Linked DNA regions of Homo sapiens. The protein of the gene in region 3 interacts with the protein of the main gene of each other region in a biochemical or structural test. Each region holds a gene or a part of one and is shown on either strand. Other genes may lie near its edges.

Region 1 (3,349 bases), on a different chromosome or scaffold from region 3:
CCCCCCCCAATACCTGGTTGGTCACGTCCCCCGGGAGGCCCCGGATCAGTATCTTGCGGCGGTTACGGAACTGGCGCTCGGTGTGTTCCAGGCGTTTCCGGATCTCTTCTGGATCTAGAGGCGGCAGCTCTTCTTCCGGCGCCCGGCGCTCCGCGGCATCGCCGGCTTCGACTTCGGCCCCAGACTTAGGGCTCAGCGGGGGCCGGTGAGTAACGGACACGTCCGCCGCCATCTTGGGAAACCCGGCGCCTTCTGGGACCAGCGAGCCGGGGCGGAGCGGCATAGAGCGGCAACGAGGGCGCGCCCGTCGATTGGCTGGGAGAAACCCCACCTCCTTCCCGCCCCCCTTGCCCCGTTGGCTAAGCCCCAGCCCACCTCTCAAGAGTTCAAGCTGCGTCTGCGCGCCACAGGCCCCGCCCCCTTCCGTCGCAGCGACGCTACTCAGTGGATGTGCACCTGGGTGGGAGAGACTTGCAGCGCGGGTGGAATCAAACCACAGATTAGGGAGTTTGAAGGCTTTATTGGTGCGGAATCTGAGGGCACAGCCAAGCCCCCGCCAACTTTGATCCCGGATCCCAGCGTCACTCAGCTCTGGACGGTTCTTCCCCCATTGCTTCTGTCGGCTGCATAGACGTGAGGGGCAGATAGGTGCTCTCCTCCCTAACATGGTAACTGCCGCTCCGTTGGTGCTCCCTGAAGACGTACATTAAGGCCAGTACGATAGTCACCACGCCCAGGGTCAGTAACACCGCCACGAAGACGGGGACAAAGTGGGAGCTCCCAGCTGTGCAGAGAAAGCGCTAAGTCAATATGCGTCCCTTCTGTCTCCAACCCCCCCGCCCCCCGGCTTACCGGTCCAGACCCGCAGCCCCGTGTTAGCTCACCCTCAATGTCCATCACCACGACCAGGGTGTATTTGCCTCGTGAGCTGGACGCTTGGCACTGATAAGTACCATTATGTGTTACGTTGACGAAGAACGGGATCCCCACCGGCACCTCCCGGCTGGAGCCTTCCTTCAAACACCGCAGCTCGGGGTACGGGTTGCCCCTGGCTTGGCACTGCAGGACGTGTCTCGTTTTATCTTTCCATTTCAAGTGCTGGGGGCATGTGGCTCGGTCAATTTTGGGACCATCTGTGGAACCACCATGTGTGATCAGACACCCAACACACCCGAGGCACAGTGGTGCAGAGGAGCGTCTAATCTTTCCAGGGCAGGGGTGGAGGGATTAAAGGTCAGGGTGACCGACTCACACAGGACTCGCAGCTGGACGCTACTGTTCCTGTGCAAGAACTCGCCGTCCACCTCGAGAGTGGCACTGCAGAAGAAGCTGCGTCCGTCGTCACTCTCGGTAGCATTTAGCTGAAGTTGAGCTGGCTGCCCCGGGGCCGCGGCCGGAACTCCGTCCAGCGTGACCTGGACTCGAGCCCCAGCCATGCAACTCACGGTCACTGTGGACCCCTCATGGGCGGTGGGCTCGCTGAGGTTCACAATGGGTCCTAGGAAGCCTAAAGGCGGGGCATTGCCCAGGAGCTTAATGAACAGGACCTTCCTGTGGGTCAAGCCGCTCCCTCCGCCCTCCCCTTTCCTCTCGGGATATCCGGGCCACGCTTTCGGCCGTTCAAGCCTCGCCCTCTTTCCGCGCTGTGTCCAGCTTCGGGCACTCAGGCCCAACCCACGTTGCAACTGCTATTGGGGCAAGCCAGGCCCCACCTTTTCGGCTAGTCTCCGCCCCCTCTGCCACGCCCCCAGACTGCTGAGGCCGCGCCCCCTTCCCACGCCTCCTCTTACTAAAGACCGTCAAGTTCTCCCGGGCCTCCCGTCTCTCGCCCCCTAGGGTCACGTTGCAGACGATCTCCCGGGCACCCTCCTGATCCGCGCGCGCCGTGGCTGTGGCTGTGGCCGTTAGCGTGTCCCCGTGGTTCATGACTGTCGCATTCAGCATCTGGTCCCCCAGCGCCAGGTAGACCTGGGCCTCTGAGGCTGGAAAAAGCCCGTCTAGGGTGCAGTCCACCGGCCACGACGTTTCCACCTCCAAGAACCGGGGGGCCACGAGGCGCGGGGGGGTCACGGGCAGGACTGGGGAGAAAGGTGGGCATAGTACAACCCCCAGGACTGTGCCTTCCCCAGGACACCCTCATCCCCCCCAGTCAGGATATCTTGCTGACTGGGTCACCCTTCTTCACAGGACACACACACAGGGCCATGAAAACGGCCTTCTTCAAAGATCCCACGGCTCGGGCCTCCCTTCCGGGGCCACCTTGCCCAGTGGCCGGGGGCTTTCCTTCCCAGAAGCCTGTGAGGTCCGGGGTACCCCACTCTCAGGAACCCCAAGGTCAGGGCACCGTCTACCCTGGCTCAGCTCGTCACCCACCGTCTGAAGCCCCTTCTCTCACCAAAGGTTCGGAGCTGGCGGGGGGCTGAGGTGTTCACGAACAGTCCCAGCCCCTGGGGCTGCATGTCCAGTTCTGTGCGGCATGAGAAAGGGGCTCCGTGGTCGTCTCTGCTGGCCAGCACAGTGGCAGTGACCTCCGCTGGCTCCTCCACTGCGGGCTGCCGGCTCAGCTCCTCCTCCCAGCGAAGCAGCACCACCGTGAGGCTGGTCCGGGGCGACCCATCCTCCACTTGGCAGCGCAGGGTGAAGTTCTGGCCCACCGGCTGCCAAGGAGGCAGGGGTGCCAGCTCCACACGCTCCGGGAGCCCTGAGAGAGGAGGGGAGGATGGCACTTAGCGGGTCCTGCAAACCCACCCACTCACCCCAGGGACTGGGGAGGAGACAGGGTGGTCCTGCCGAGAACTGTGAGCTTTGAGTTAATAAACTTAGAGGGCTTAGAGCTGGGCCAGTCGAAGCGTTTGCTATTATCATTAGCGCAGTGATTATCATTTCCTGTGTTGTCAGATACCTTGCAAGGCGCTAAACAAAACTTTCTGTTCTCAAAGATGGCACAATAAAAAAAAATGAGGATGGAAGGGATGAACGTTTATGACTATGATATGAATATTAAAAATTCCTGTTTATGGCCAGACGTGGTGGCTCACGCCTGTAATCCCAGAGCTTTGGGAGGCCGGGGTGGGTGGATCAAAAGGTCAGGATTATTCAGTTCTCTCCAATCAGGTTCAGACACTCAGGGCTTTCCTGGTTCACCAGCCCTGTGGCAGCCTCTCAAGATACTCCGGCACAGTCACAGGAGACTTGACACTCCCAGGCTGGGTGCCCTCCCCAGTACACCTACAAAACGCTGGGCCTCAGGCCGGGCACTGTGGCTCATGCCTGTAATCCCAGCACTTTGGGAGGCCAAGGTGGACGGATCACCTGAGACCAGGAGTTCAAGACCAGCCTTGCCAACATG
Region 2 (7,000 bases), on a different chromosome or scaffold from region 3:
GAATCCGGAAGATAGGAGGAATATGGACGTGGGTGGGAACCAACAAATCTCTTACTGAAGAAGCAGAGAACTGGGGAGATGGTGAGCCCAACAACAAGAAGAACAAGGAGGACTGCGTGGAGATCTATATCAAGAGAAACAAAGATGCAGGCAAATGGAACGATGACGCCTGCCACAAACTAAAGGCAGCCCTCTGTTACACAGGTAGGGAGTGACAAGACGGCTATGCTGCCTCAGACTCAGGAAGGGCCACGGTTAAGAGAATACTCAGATTTACCCCATGGAAAGGTGGGGGGATGAGAACAGCTTCTGGTTCATTCTAAAATACATCTAGCCCTCTATATAATCTTGCATCGTGTCACTCCTAAGAATTTTTGGTGTGTAAGATTTGTCCCTGTGCACAAAAGCTATACCCCTAAATCAAGTTACATCAAAATGATAGATCTACGTAGGAAGTACAGAGGAAGAGCTAGACAATCAGTGCCTTTGATAATAAGGCAGGGGAGGAGAAGCTGACAGCTGGGGCCAGTTGGAAACTTAGGCTCACATCACCTCAGTTTTCACATTGTGAAGTAGAGAGTGTGGTGCTGCGTGCTTCCTTCTTGGTCTAACCTTATATAATTTTATATAAAAATTGCACTATCTTTGGTGTATGAATATTTCTGTAAAATCTTCTACAATTCCAAAACAGCCAGCATTTTCCAAGTGATGTTTTAATAATGAACCATAGTTAATTTGGTCTCTTATAAATTGGACTCTACCGTTTTAGCAAATTTGGACTTTTTAATCTTTGATTTCTATAAAGAAAGGGATTGCCAAGAAATAATTGCATGCAGAAATGATTGAGGTCAGGTCATCATTTAACCTTCTCACTCATTAAAAACAAGTAATTTCAAGAGTTTCAAGGTATGCCACTAAGTTTCCTATAAGTGTTACAGAATATTAGTATTGGTAATTTCATTCCAAAAGCAAATAAATGCCTATGACTATATGCTTAGTGTATTTTATACGTAAAAATTTTAGCATATGATTTTTATGCTATGAATTTACAAATAAACCTTTCCTGATTATTTAAATCATCTCAGACAAAAGGTTATCTATGTCTAAAGAAATGACTTTGAGTACTAAAATGTAATCACATTAAAATATTTTTTTTCTGACCTCCTTAAAGCTTCTTGCCAGCCCTGGTCATGCAGTGGCCATGGAGAATGTGTAGAAATCATCAATAATTACACCTGCAACTGTGATGTGGGGTACTATGGGCCCCAGTGTCAGTTTGGTAAGTCTCTTTCCTTTCTTTGCTTCTTCTTAGGTAAAGTCACAGGAATCATTATAGCTTATCATGAAGCTGGTTGGAACAAAATGATACTAGCCACTCTGAGAAATGGGAAGTTTTGATCAGAAAGCTCTGCTTTCACAATATTGTTACCTTTCCGTAAAGATTTCATAAGTCAGCATGAAGTTTCGACTCACTTCTCAACAAGTCTTTTTGAGTACCACAAGAAGCACAGTGTTGGGATAAAAGCTGTCAGGGTTACCATAAGGAATTAGCATGGTAGATTCCCGCTCTCAAGAAGCTCACGATCTAATGAGCTTGTTAGATTAATTAGAACTCTAAGGTCTGGAAGAAACTATGCCATTTATCATTAGGAGGCTGAGTTACCCAGAAAGTATCTTGCTTTTTCCTTCTAGTAGTTCCTTTCCTTCTTGCAGTTCTCCACACTTAACACATGTGCTCTGTAGCACACTGACTTTGCTGGTGGCCTTCTCTCTCATTTTGCACATGGCCAAAAAACATGTCATCTTTAAGACATTGTTCAAAGACAGTTTCTTCTAGGAAGCTTTCTTAGTTCTGATAGCTCCACATATTTCTTCCTCATTTCTCCCACTTATGTTGAAGTCATCTGTTCACTTGTCCGTCTCCTCTGGTACTGAAAACTTCTTGAGATCAGTAAGTGTCCTATTTATCATTGCATCTTTGGGATCCACAAAATGCCTGTATATATGAGGCACTTGCTTGTGAGCCTGAATTGAATTGGACAATTTAATTTTTTAAAAAAGCAATGTTTGTAAACAATAAAGAATTAAAACCAAAATACATTTAAATGTCAACCAACTGAAATAGATCTATAGATCTAACTCATTTCACTTGATCCCTGGGCCATGACTCCTTCCTAATACTTTACCCTCACCCCATTTTTGAACTCTATTTTTTAACCCTTATGTTATTGGTATGCCTATTTTACTCATTTTTAATTATTGGTATGCCTATTTCACTCATTTTTAACATTTTACTTTTCTTTGTCTTGGTTTCTCTCATATCACTCTTTTCTCATTCTTTCTACCTGTGATCATTTCTCCTGAGATCCTTCATGAGCACTTATCCAGGACCATAAACTACTATAATTTCTCAGCTTTTGTCTTTTGTATATTGCTCTTCTGACTCTAATCTACATGTATCCTTTGGTCAAACTTACTGACTTTTGCGGACTCACAAATCTATGTGATCTTTGGACTGATAAGCCTATCTCCAGCTCTGAACTCAAATATGCTAAGGATGTCCTTTGGGATGTTTAAAAGACTATAAAACCAATTGTTCCCAGTCAGCTTTTCTCTTCGTATTTCTTATCTCAGTATGTGGAATCACCATTTACATGGGCACCCTGGTATGAGACTCTCTTAACTCCCCCAACATTTATGCAGGGTAACATTCTACCAATTTTTACAACTTAGTGTTTTTCTAATTTGTCTTCCACTTGTCAACTCTACTACCATTGCCGTCATTATCTTTCTTCTAGATTCTTGCAATAGTTTATTAGATGAGTTCCACAATTTTAAATTAGCTCCCCTCAAATACATTATTCATACTACAGGGAGACTGATCAATTAAAAGCAATTAAAACACATCACACATACATGACAATCCACCCATTAATTTCTACCTACCATTTTGTCCTACAGGGTGAAATCTAAGCTCTTCAAGCCCCAGAGTAATGCTTGATATATAATAGATACTCTTTAAATCAATGAAAAAAGATAACATTTTCTCTTAGTTCCCATGTTTCTCCCTAATCTCATCTCATATAGTTTCCAAATACAAAAATTCTTCTGATTCCTTGAGTCCATTCTTCCTTGAAGTCTCTAGAGCAAGGTAGCAATAATGGCTTAAATTTGACAGATGAGGAATAAGACATGAAAGTTGTACTGTTTACTAAATGGCATGGCAGGGTCTAAAATGTGAAAACTTTGATTTCCAAGTCTTAAATTTACCTATTGTACCACCAATCAGAACAGGGAAATAGATACAGTTTCTGGAGAGGGTTGTCAAAATCAAAAGAGTTAAAATTCTGGAACTGAGCTAGAATAGAAGACAGAATTGAGGTCAAAATGCTTCCTAGACTTTTATATTCTCTCCTTGCAAAGAAGGCTTATTATGGAGACCCACTCTTTCTCTGAACATCTTGCTCCCAATACTCTAGTAGACTCAGGGGCTCTGATGTGATAGTTATTTCCCGACTAAGCTGGTCATTCCCAGTTACACCTATTTGGCTTTAAGGATTCTCACTACAGATAATGCTGAAGATAATAATATGAAGACTAGCTAATGTTTACTTAGAATTTCTGATGAGTCAGGCTTTGTTCTAAGGTCCTTGACTTATGCTAATTGAATTACATTTAGTTTCCATATCAATTTGATAAAGATAACACAATTTCATTATTCCTCTTATATAGATGAAGAAACTGAAGTTGGAGGGTTCAAGTAACCTTGTTTAAAGGCACATGGTTATCAAGTGGCAGGGCTAGGATTCAAATCCAGGCGTCAGTTCCTCTTAACTCTTCCCCATACTGTTTCTTTCCCTATTGAAGTGATTCAGTGTGAGCCTTTGGAGGCCCCAGAGCTGGGTACCATGGACTGTACTCACCCTTTGGGAAACTTCAGCTTCAGCTCACAGTGTGCCTTCAGCTGCTCTGAAGGAACAAACTTAACTGGGATTGAAGAAACCACCTGTGGACCATTTGGAAACTGGTCATCTCCAGAACCAACCTGTCAAGGTGAGTAACTTCAGACTAGAGGTTTTGTCATGCAATCCTGGGCTTACAGTCAGAACATTCAGTAGAAGTTTGCTGAGAAGTCAAACTTAGGAGCCTAATTTAACCTAACTTTGTTTAACCTACTGTGATGTTTCTCAAAGGACTTATTCTAACTAAATTTTTTTGAAAAACCTCCCAAACAAAAAGTAAAAACCAAATACCCCTGAAGCCATCTCCCAGTGTGTAACATGACTTATAGCAATACAGCATGGTTATACTGTGTTTTTTATTTTTCTCATTGCCATTGCATAAATAATGTCTTGTTGAACCTCAGTTACATTTTGGTTCTTCTCCTCTCAATAACACCTGTTTTATGTGGTGTCCTACTTAATACCAACCAGTTTCCTTCCCAGGGTAGTGGAGGTCTTTCTTGGTTGTTTTATTTGGCTTATTCTTAAAATCACTTTTACTTTTCCTCATGCATAAACTTTTAGGAGAATAACAACTGAAAAACAAAAACACAATCTCTTGATCTTTTCAAGTTTGAAATAAGGTAGGTTTTTTTTTTTTTTTCATTTTTAACTGCCAACCTTATCTCCATATGGGAGAAAACCAATGTCATCTGAACTTACGAAGTTTTGGTTAACTTTTCTACAAGTATGCTCCTGATGCATTAGTTTAAGTAGTTTAATTCTTAGAAGTGCTATCAAAATCCCTTATTGAAATTATAAAACTGTCAACCCACCTACTGGAATTTACGGAAGTTGGACTTGCTTCAGTGAATTGGGATGTTTTTCAAAATGCTTGGGTAGATATCAGAACAGATGAAACGGCAGAGATTCTCTGAGAATATCCCATAAGAGCCCTTGATGCAGAGGCCATATGGCATGGTACTTCCAGCAGAAGGGGAGGGTCACCTTAGCTAGGGCAGCAGCCTGGAGTAGCTACTCCTCTCCCCACAGCTTTCAATGCTTCCTTGCCTTCATCTCTCATTCACCACCCACCATCATTCTCAAGAAAATAAAGCCTGGAAGCAATATCACAAGTAATGTAGTCAGGCAGCTTTGGCTAAAAATCCTTTGCTCAAGGGAGGGTCTCTACTCAGAAATACTGTTTTGTCTTTTTTTTTTTTTTCTTTTTCATTGAAGTGATTCAGTGTGAGCCTCTATCAGCACCAGATTTGGGGATCATGAACTGTAGCCATCCCCTGGCCAGCTTCAGCTTTACCTCTGCATGTACCTTCATCTGCTCAGAAGGAACTGAGTTAATTGGGAAGAAGAAAACCATTTGTGAATCATCTGGAATCTGGTCAAATCCTAGTCCAATATGTCAAAGTGAGTAAGTTTGTCCTGGAAAACTGAAATCTTAACGATGGAGCTGATGGATGAGCAGATATGAGGAAAGACATACATAAACATTTACATGTTGTTTTGCTAAGAATATGTGGCCTAGAAATAAATTTGTATGCTTAACTCACTGTAAAATCTTTGGCTGGTCTTTCCTCCTCCTTTAATGACAATCATTTCCTTTTTTTGTTCTCACCTCTTGCCATCTTAACTCCTAAAATCTGAACTCACTGATTTACTTTTTACCCATTCTTCTATTCCACTACAATCTAACATCTCTGTTAGCCCATTGAAATGCCTGTAAAAGGTCACTAATGACCACCTACTTCCCCAAATAATGGATACTCCTGAATCATCACTAAGCTAATGCCTCCAAAATCTATCTGTATATGAGAAGAATCATGTCTTGTTCATCTTTGTATACCCTCCACCTGACACAGTGCCTGGCAATAGGTGCTAAAGCAAATGCATGTTAAGCTAGCATGTGAAAGAATAGCTACCTGTGTCTGCTCCTGAGACTATCTGCATGGATGACAAAAGTCTTTAAATGGTAGGATCTACAGAAGCTGTCAGAAATGCTGATCTCTGTGTGCTGCGTGCCCAGGGCCAGGGAGTAGAGTGGATGAGCAGAGAGAGGCAGGGAGGCCTTTAGCAGAGGACTGTGTATTAGGCCTATCAGAGACATTTCCCTTTAAGGCCTAGCTAGTGTTCATTTCCTCCTCATCTTCATCAAGCCAACAGGTACCTTCTGTCTGGAGCTCCTGGGAACTTGAGCCTTCTCTCAATCATATATTTGGGTGTGGGGATCAAATCACCTTGAAAAGGTTCATCAAAGTAATGGGAAGAACTAAGGATAGAATCAGACCCTCTGCCAATATGTAAAAAAGTAGATTCCTTCAAATGTTAGTATCAGGAGACAGATTTTTTTTTATACCAGTATTTTCAAATAGAGGCTCCCAAATGAACTTAGTTTACACTTACAAGAGTATCTCTAAACATGCCCTTTTACTTATTCGTGAAGGAAGTAGAGGGAAGTGGTAACTACTGCATTGGAAAGAAATTAGTGCAGGTCCTTGGCATGTAAAAATCAAGTGCTTATTTTTGCACAACTGCTTTAAAGTAAAAGCATTAATGATTTCCTTTGACTGGTGAATTATCCAGTTCAGATCATTGGCTTTTATTTTTCCTGAAGTTGTATTAGGCTTTTAGCTCTTCTCTGTGTTTCAGAGTTCCAGTCATTGAACAAGTCCATGGAGCTAAATACAACGATGACCATTCTTGCCAACATTTTTAGGTGCATTTTCAGGAACTCTATGAACCACAAATCTGGGCATTGAGATTCTGTAGGCATTAGACTAGCAAGGCTGGTCCAGTCTTTGCCTATGCTGTAGACTCATCAGGGGCCTTCCCATGCCAGTTTCCTCATCTGTCAAATGGCATCAAATGGGCTACTACTGGGAGATGTAAGGAGGAAAAAAGTCAAATATCATGAGATAGACTAAGGAAATAATGCTGGTGGTCTCATGCTATGTGCCTTACTGATTTCTCTTTCAGAATTGGACAAAAGTTTCTCAATGATTAAGGAGGGTGATTATAACCCCCTCTTCATTCCAGTGGCAGTC
Region 3 (6,995 bases):
AGAGTCCAAGGAATGGCAAGAAGGCAAGGGTGGCGGTGGGTAGTGAGGCATGTTTTTTTGTTTTTTTGCTTTTTTTGTTTTTGAGATGGAGTCTCACTCTGTCACCCAGGCTGGAGTGCAGTGGCGTGATCTCGGCTCACTGCAACCTCCGCCTCCCAGGTTCAAGCGATTCTCCTGCCTCAGCTTCCCGAGTAGCTGGGATTACAGGCGCACACCACCACGCCCAGCTAATTTTTGTAATTTTAGTAGAGACAGGGTTTCACCATGTTGGTCAGGCTGGTCTCGAACTCCTGACTTCATGATCTGCCTGCCTCGGCCTCCCAAAGTGCTGGGATTACTGGCTGGAGCCACCACGCCCGGCTGGCGTGTTTTAACAAATGTAGGGGAGGTTGGGCTGACTAGGAGGGACAATTAGCTATAAAAGTGAAACCGACCCTAGATAGGTTGTAGACATGCTGCAATATGAATGAACGAGTTTGATTTTCCACTACCTTTCTCCATCTGTCACACGCTAGAAATAGCCTAAAGCACATAAATGAAAATGGAGCAGAGAAAGGGAAATTTTTTCCCCTTTTAATTAAAATTACTGGTTGGTATTCAGTGAACTAGGGTGTGCCCCTGAACACCTTGGCCTTGGTATGAGGAATAAGAAAAGTAACAGAAGGCACCTGGTGACACTACCGAACCTTACCAGGAGACCACACAAATGTCAACCTTGGCCACTTTGCTCAAATTACTCATTTCCTTTTATCTGAGGACCATAAAGGTCTGAGAACAGTGGGCAATTTGTTTGGAGCAAGAAAGGGAACTCAAATGTCAAGAACTCAATCATTGGGTCAGAATAAAGGGTCAATGAGATGAGCATCAGAAAGCCTGGACCCCAATCTTGGCTCAGTCACCATGTGCCCTTAGGTAGGTCTTTCCCTGTAGGTCTCAATAGCCTCATTAGATTTTTGTTTTAGTTTTAGTTTTTTTTTTTAAGAGAGTTGTACTAAATAGTCTCCAAGGTCCCTTTCAGGTTAAGATTCTATGATCTTAACAGACATAATATAGTTGCTTTTCCTAAAAGTTGACCATTCCTTGAGTCAAAGTATAGAAAATTCTCTAATACTTCCAGTCTATCAAAATTCAGCCCTCTCCTTCCAATTTGATTCAGGTTTCAGTCAATCTGCATAAAAATGCCTTCAGTATTTAGGTACCCTCATTACTCCAGGCCTGACTACAAACAGCTTATACTCCATTCTCTCTCCATTCCCAGGAAAACAATAAACACGCTGTCTTGTCTTCTTTGCCACTTTGACTCAGATGAGACGGTTAATGCAAGTTTGAAGCAACTTCCAGGCCCATGAAGCTGTGTTTCAAAGTGGGCTATCTCAGAACTGAGGATGAGATATGCCACTACAGAAGAAAGACCGTGGAGCAATGTCTATTCCCAGAGATCCACCCAACTGTTCAGGCAAAGCCGCACCTTAAGAGGAGTCAGGAGTCAACCACAGAGAGAGACCCAAAGAGCCGCTCCTGACAGGATCTTTATAATCTTGTTTTGGCAGACAATGGGATATTTTCCCCTCTCTCCAAAACCATTACTCTCTCTCTTTGGGGGCGGGGACTAGGGAACAAAGTGTGTAAAAGCCTCATGTCCTAAAACCACAAGCAATTTAAAGGAGATAGACAGTGAAAGCACATACTTTTTGAAAACTTGGTGTTTCTGAAGGACAAGGTTCTGGAAAGGCAAGAACGACTTGGCAGTGAGGCTGGTATACAGTAACGTGGCAACCAAAGCTCATCACAAACCCAAAAGGCTGGGCCCCCAACTCTCCTCCTCTCATCCCAGGGGACCTTCAGCCCTTTTCAAGGCTACTAGTCACTATCTCACCTCTACAAGGCTCAAGCAGTCCTGGGGAGACATGTTTGGGAGCACTGCATTGCCTAGGCCAGCTCAACAAGCTGTTTGGCCTAAGGGACTCAAGCCAGGGTGGTCACCAGGCCTTTCTGAGCAAGGGAAGGGCCTCAGCAGCCATTTGGCATGACTTGCACAAAAGCAAGCAGAGCTCATTAGTCAGGCACACCCCTCCTCCCCTCTCCCTCCTGGGCATCCGGCCCCCCTATCCCCACTCCCAGGAGGCTTCTGTTCCTCTCGTAACAGCCAGTGGGGTGGAGACGCATCCCCAAATCAACCACCACTCTAGAAAGGTGTGGCCCCACGAGAAAACCCACACCACACAAAATAGTCCGGAGGGGATAGGAGGAGATAGAGAGGCATTAAGCAATAGGAGGGGCAGGGATTTGGAGGTGGAGAGGAGGGAGAAACCGGTCCTCTCTCCCAGGAGATGGGGTAGGCCTCTCCTCAGACTGGTGCCTAAATAAGTGTTGGTGCTCTCGGGTGCAGCCTCGATGACGATTTCCTCACATCTCTCTCCTCACCTCCTAGTGGAAAACAGCTGGAGCCACCCGGTGAGGCTGTGGGAAAGATGAGTGGGGGTGCCGGATCCGCCCCGAGCGGCTCCCTCCTTTCTCCCTGCTTCTCTGTTCCCATGTCCCCTCTTGGACATTGGCAGCCTTGCCCCAGAAAGGTGCCAATTCCTGGGTTGGGGAAAGTGTTGTCTTCTGGACCAGAATCCTCTCCTCTGTGCCCATGGCCCATCAGGGAAAAGGGGAAACCCCAGGCCCCAACGAAGCCGTCCTGACTGTTGCATCTCAGACACAGGGAACTGGAACCTGAGAAAGAGGCAGGCCTCGCCCCGTCCAAACTTCCAGCCTGGACACCCCCTCAACCCCTGAGGGCGCACCAGACCAGGATCCCACTCCGGTCCCCTCCCTACCCTTGGCTATGGCGGAGGGCGCGGCGTCCCAGGCGGGCCGGTGGCTGGCCAAGCCCTCAGCCATCAGCAAAGGGCTATGAGGCTCAGCCAGAGCCATTGGGGTCGACAGCGCCCACCTCCGGCACTCACCGTTTTGGGCATGGTGGCGGCAAAGGCAGCGGAGTTGGCGAAGTTTAGCTAGGACTGTCGGGCAGTGCTGAGCACGCAGTACACACGGCTTGGATTCGGCTGGCCGGGGACTCAGATTGGGTCCCTCACTAGCGTCGGGGCGACTGTTAGGCTTCCTGCTAACGGGCCACGACTTCACAAACCCCACCCAGGAAAGAGCCGCCCCTGTCGCGCCGCCCGCTCCTTTATGTGGCCCGGCTTCCGCGCCGCTCCCCGCCCTCGCGCCCGCCTCCCCGCCGACCGCTGGCCTTGCCCCGCCCAGCCCCGCCTGGCCAGGCCCGGCGCAGCCAGGCCACAGCGGCCACGTGGGGGGCCCGGCTGGGCCCGGGCGGACCTAGGGTAGCTACCACTCCCCACCCAGACCCACCCGGCTCCTCTCCCACCCTGGTCACAGCCCCTAGCCTTCCACGTCCTGGCCTTCCAGCCCCACCCCCACTCAGGGCCCAGACCCTGGGCCCTGACAGATGCTTACTCAGCCCCTGACTGCAACTTTCCACTGATGGGGAGCTCACTACCTATCTTTTCCTTCTCTAGACAGCTCTGGCTCTTAGAAAGTTCTTGCCGTGTCTGAACTCCTTTTCTCTATGGCTTCCATCCATGGATCTCAGTTCTGCTCCCTGAGGCCACACAGATCCCCTGTTGTCCCTAACAGCTCCTCAAAGGCCTGAAGATCTCAGGTCCACAGGAAACTTCTCTTCTTTTGGCTAAACTGCCTCACCTCTTAAAACACTTCATCCATTCTCTTCCGTAGGACTCTCCCCATCATATTTCCTACCCATCCTTGCTCAGTCCTCATTTATCTTTCCTTCATCTAAATCCCAGTCTTCACCTTCCTCAAATCAGTGACCTGATCCTTTAGCCCCTCTCCCAGTACATTCACTTTCTGATGTCCTGATGGGGCTGGCTATAATTCCCTCAGGTTAGATGTGACCTCCCTAGTCCACACCCTTGGGGTTTGTCTGCCAGCTCCCTTTCTCCTTCTTGTCAAGGTCACAGAATCCCAGGATGGCAGTGTTCTAGACTGTTGAAGTCGTCTGGTCAAGTCTGAGTTTTAGGCTGAGTGCGGTGGCTCATGACTGTAATCTTAACACTTTGAGAGGCTGATGCAGGAGGATTGCTTGAGCCCAGGAATTCGAGACCAGCCTGGGGAGCATATCAAGACCCCCTCCCATATCTATACAAAAAAAATAAGTGAGAGCCGGGCATAGTGGCTCACTCCTGTAATCCCAGCACTTTGGGAGGCTGAGGCGGGCTGATCACCTGAGGTCAGGAGTTCAAGACCAGCCTGGCCAACATGGTGAAACCCCGTCTCTACTAAAATTACAAAAATTAGCCGGGCACGTGCCTGTAATCCGAGCTACTCGGGAGGCTGAGGAGGGAGAATCGCTTGAACCCGGGAGGCGGAGGTTACAGTGAGTCAAGACTGAGCCAGTGCACTCCAGCCAGGGCAACAGAGTGAAACTCTGTCTCAAAAATAATAATAATAATAGTAAGTGAGACCATGTGCAGTGGCTTACACCTGTAATCCTACCACTTTGGGAGGCCAAGACCTGCAGATCACTTGAGGTCAAGAGTTTGAGACCAGCCTGCTCAACATGGCGAAACCTCATCTCTATTAAAAATGCGAAAAAAAAAAACAAAAAAATTAGCCGGGTGTGATGGCACGTAGTTCCAGGCACTCGGGAGGATGAGGCAGGAGAATCGCTTCCGGGAGGCGGAGGCTGCACTGAGCCCAGATTGGGCCACTGCACTCCAGCCTGGGCAATAGCACAAGACTCCGTCTCCAAAAAAAGTAAAATAAAATAAGTCCGAGTTTTAGTTTGAAAGTGGCTGGCCATAGTCCTTTTTTCCTCCTCTCCACTGGCAACCATGTGAAGGCATGGTCTGAGTATCCTTTGTGAGGTAAGGCACCACAGATGGTAAGCCAGTTTGAGACAATGGAAAGGATACTTGAGAGGTCAGGACACCTGGCTTCTACGTATAGCTCTGCCATTAACTCATCCTATGACCACTATGTGGCCTTGGGTAATTCCCTCCCCCTCTCTGGGCTTGAGTTTCCATTTCTGTAGCAAGAAAGGACTGGACTCCGGGGCTTCCAAGGTCCTTTCCCACTCTGACATTATAAAGGGATGAGAAAGGAAGTATACTCCCTAGGACAATAGATGAGCCTAACAGGATTGCATATGGGCTGGTCTTGCATTTGCACTCAGGAACCAGTAGTCTGATTCCATCCTCTTCCTTTGCCTTCCCAGACCAACAGTGTCCACGATTCAGTGTGCCTCGGTTTCTCTCACTGCTAACAAGATTCATTGATGTGTGCTAGGGTAAACAAAGTTCCCTGCCAAGATCATTTCCTTGAGCTAAGCATTTGTTCAAAGAGCAGCACTCATCGGAAAGCCCAAACAGTCTCCATGAGCAGTTGTCCCCAAGGAAGAGCAGCACTCACCAGAAAGCCTCAGCAGCAGGAGTAGCAATGACAGCTCATCACACGCCTTAATACTGCCATTGGCCCTTTTCCACCAGATGTTCAAGGAACTCAACTGATTTCTTCACTCATGTTCACCTAGAACCTACAGGGACCTGGCATGAAGCTAAATGCCTAAAGACAAAGAATTTACTTGGCGACTCCAACTTTCTGGAAAGTGGAAACTCCCTTGTGTCATTCCCCACCTCCCATGCCAACCACTCCCCACAACACACATACACAGGGGAGAGTTGGGTAGAGAGTGTCAAGTAGCTGAAGACACTACTAAAAGGGAAACAAGGACCAGGTGTGGTGGCTCACACCTGTAATCCCAGCACTTTGGGAGGCTGAGGCAGGCAGATCACTCGAGGTCAGGAGTTCAAGACCAGCCTGGCCAACATGGGAAAACCCCATCTCTACTAAAAATACAAAAATTAGCTGGGTGTGGTGGCATGTGCCTGTAATCCCAGCTACTCGAGAGGCTGAGGCAGGAGAATTACTTGAACCCAGAAGGCAGAGGCTGCAGTGAGCAAAGATCATACCACTGCACTCCAGCCAGGGTGACAGAGCAAAACACTGTCTTAAAAAAAAAAAAAAAGAAAGGGGGCATAGAAGTCCAAGCAGGGGCAGGGGGTGTCAGAGGCTCGGGGAGCTAAGAAATAGGGGGAAAGGGGCTGAGGGAGAAAGATGAGGTTGGACCTCTGGGGAGGAGAGGATGGGAAATAGAGAGAGAGCATAAACTATCAGAGACTAGTTAGTCCAGTCTCACTCCAGGTCAGGAGAACTGGGGATCAGAAAGAGGAAAAGACTTACCCAAGGCCAGATAGCTAATGTACAGAAGACAAAGAGCTCAGTTAAGAAGCTCTGGCAATAGTACAAGCAAGAAATTTTTTAAATATTATTTTCTCATGTTTTATTTTAGATACAGGGGGTACATGTGCATGTTTGTTACATAGATATATTGCACTCAGGTAGTGAGCATAGTACTCATTAGGAAGCTTTTCAACCCATGTCCTCTTCCCTCCCACCTCTAGTAGTTTTCAGTGTCTGTTGTGCCCATGTTTATGTCTGTAGGTGCTCAATGTTAAGCTCCCACTTATAAGTGAGAACATGCGGTATTTGGCTTTCTGTTCCTTCACTAATTCACTTAGGATTATGGCCTCCTGTTCCATCCATGTTGCTACTAAGGACATAATTTTATTCTTTTCTATGGCTGCATAGTATTCCACGGTGTATATGTACCACATTTTCTTTATCCAGTCGACTATTTCTTTCTTTTTTTTTTTTTTTTGAGATGGAGTCTCACTCTGTCACCCAGGCTGGAGTGCAGTGGCGTGATCTCGGCTCACTTCAAGCTCCGCCTCCCGGGTTCATGCCATTCTCTTGCCTCAGCCTCCCAAGTAGCTGGGACTATAGGCACCCGCCACCATGCCCGGCTAATTTTTTTTGTATTTTTAGTAGAGACGGGGTTTCACCATGCTAGCCAGGATGGTCTCGATCTCCTGACCTTGTGATCAGCCCACCTCGGCCTCCCAAAGTGC

Evidence for each region.
Region 1: the proteins of MSN (region 3) and ICAM3 form a complex in vitro, tested with the Homo sapiens proteins (2 studies listed by BioGRID).
Region 2: the proteins of MSN (region 3) and SELL form a complex in vitro, tested with the Homo sapiens proteins (one study listed by BioGRID).

The regions. Positions count from the first base shown.
Region 1 is NC_000019.10:10,333,276-10,336,624, forward strand, and holds the end of ICAM3 (intercellular adhesion molecule 3 isoform 1 precursor), read right to left. Parts: intron 2,702-3,349; coding exon 2,396-2,701; exon of another isoform or gene 2,079-2,395; coding exon 1,791-2,078; intron 1,546-1,790; exon of another isoform or gene 1,508-1,545; coding exon 1,253-1,507; intron 1,134-1,252; coding exon 885-1,133; intron 785-884; coding exon 582-784; 3' UTR 501-581; downstream 1-500. Other genes in the region: RAVER1 (ribonucleoprotein PTB-binding 1), read right to left, coding at 14-232. UniProt on the Homo sapiens protein: ICAM proteins are ligands for the leukocyte adhesion protein LFA-1 (integrin alpha-L/beta-2). ICAM3 is also a ligand for integrin alpha-D/beta-2. In association with integrin alpha-L/beta-2, contributes to apoptotic neutrophil phagocytosis by macrophages.
Region 2 is NC_000001.11:169,701,621-169,708,620, reverse strand, and holds part of SELL (L-selectin precursor), read left to right. Parts: coding exon 1-204; intron 205-1,171; coding exon 1,172-1,279; intron 1,280-3,867; coding exon 3,868-4,053; intron 4,054-5,180; coding exon 5,181-5,366; intron 5,367-6,932; coding exon 6,933-7,000. UniProt on the Homo sapiens protein: Calcium-dependent lectin that mediates cell adhesion by binding to glycoproteins on neighboring cells. Mediates the adherence of lymphocytes to endothelial cells of high endothelial venules in peripheral lymph nodes.
Region 3 is NC_000023.11:65,663,810-65,670,804, reverse strand, and holds the start of MSN (moesin), read right to left. Parts: upstream 3,152-6,995; 5' UTR 2,964-3,151; coding exon 2,952-2,963; intron 1-2,951. UniProt on the Homo sapiens protein: Ezrin-radixin-moesin (ERM) family protein that connects the actin cytoskeleton to the plasma membrane and thereby regulates the structure and function of specific domains of the cell cortex.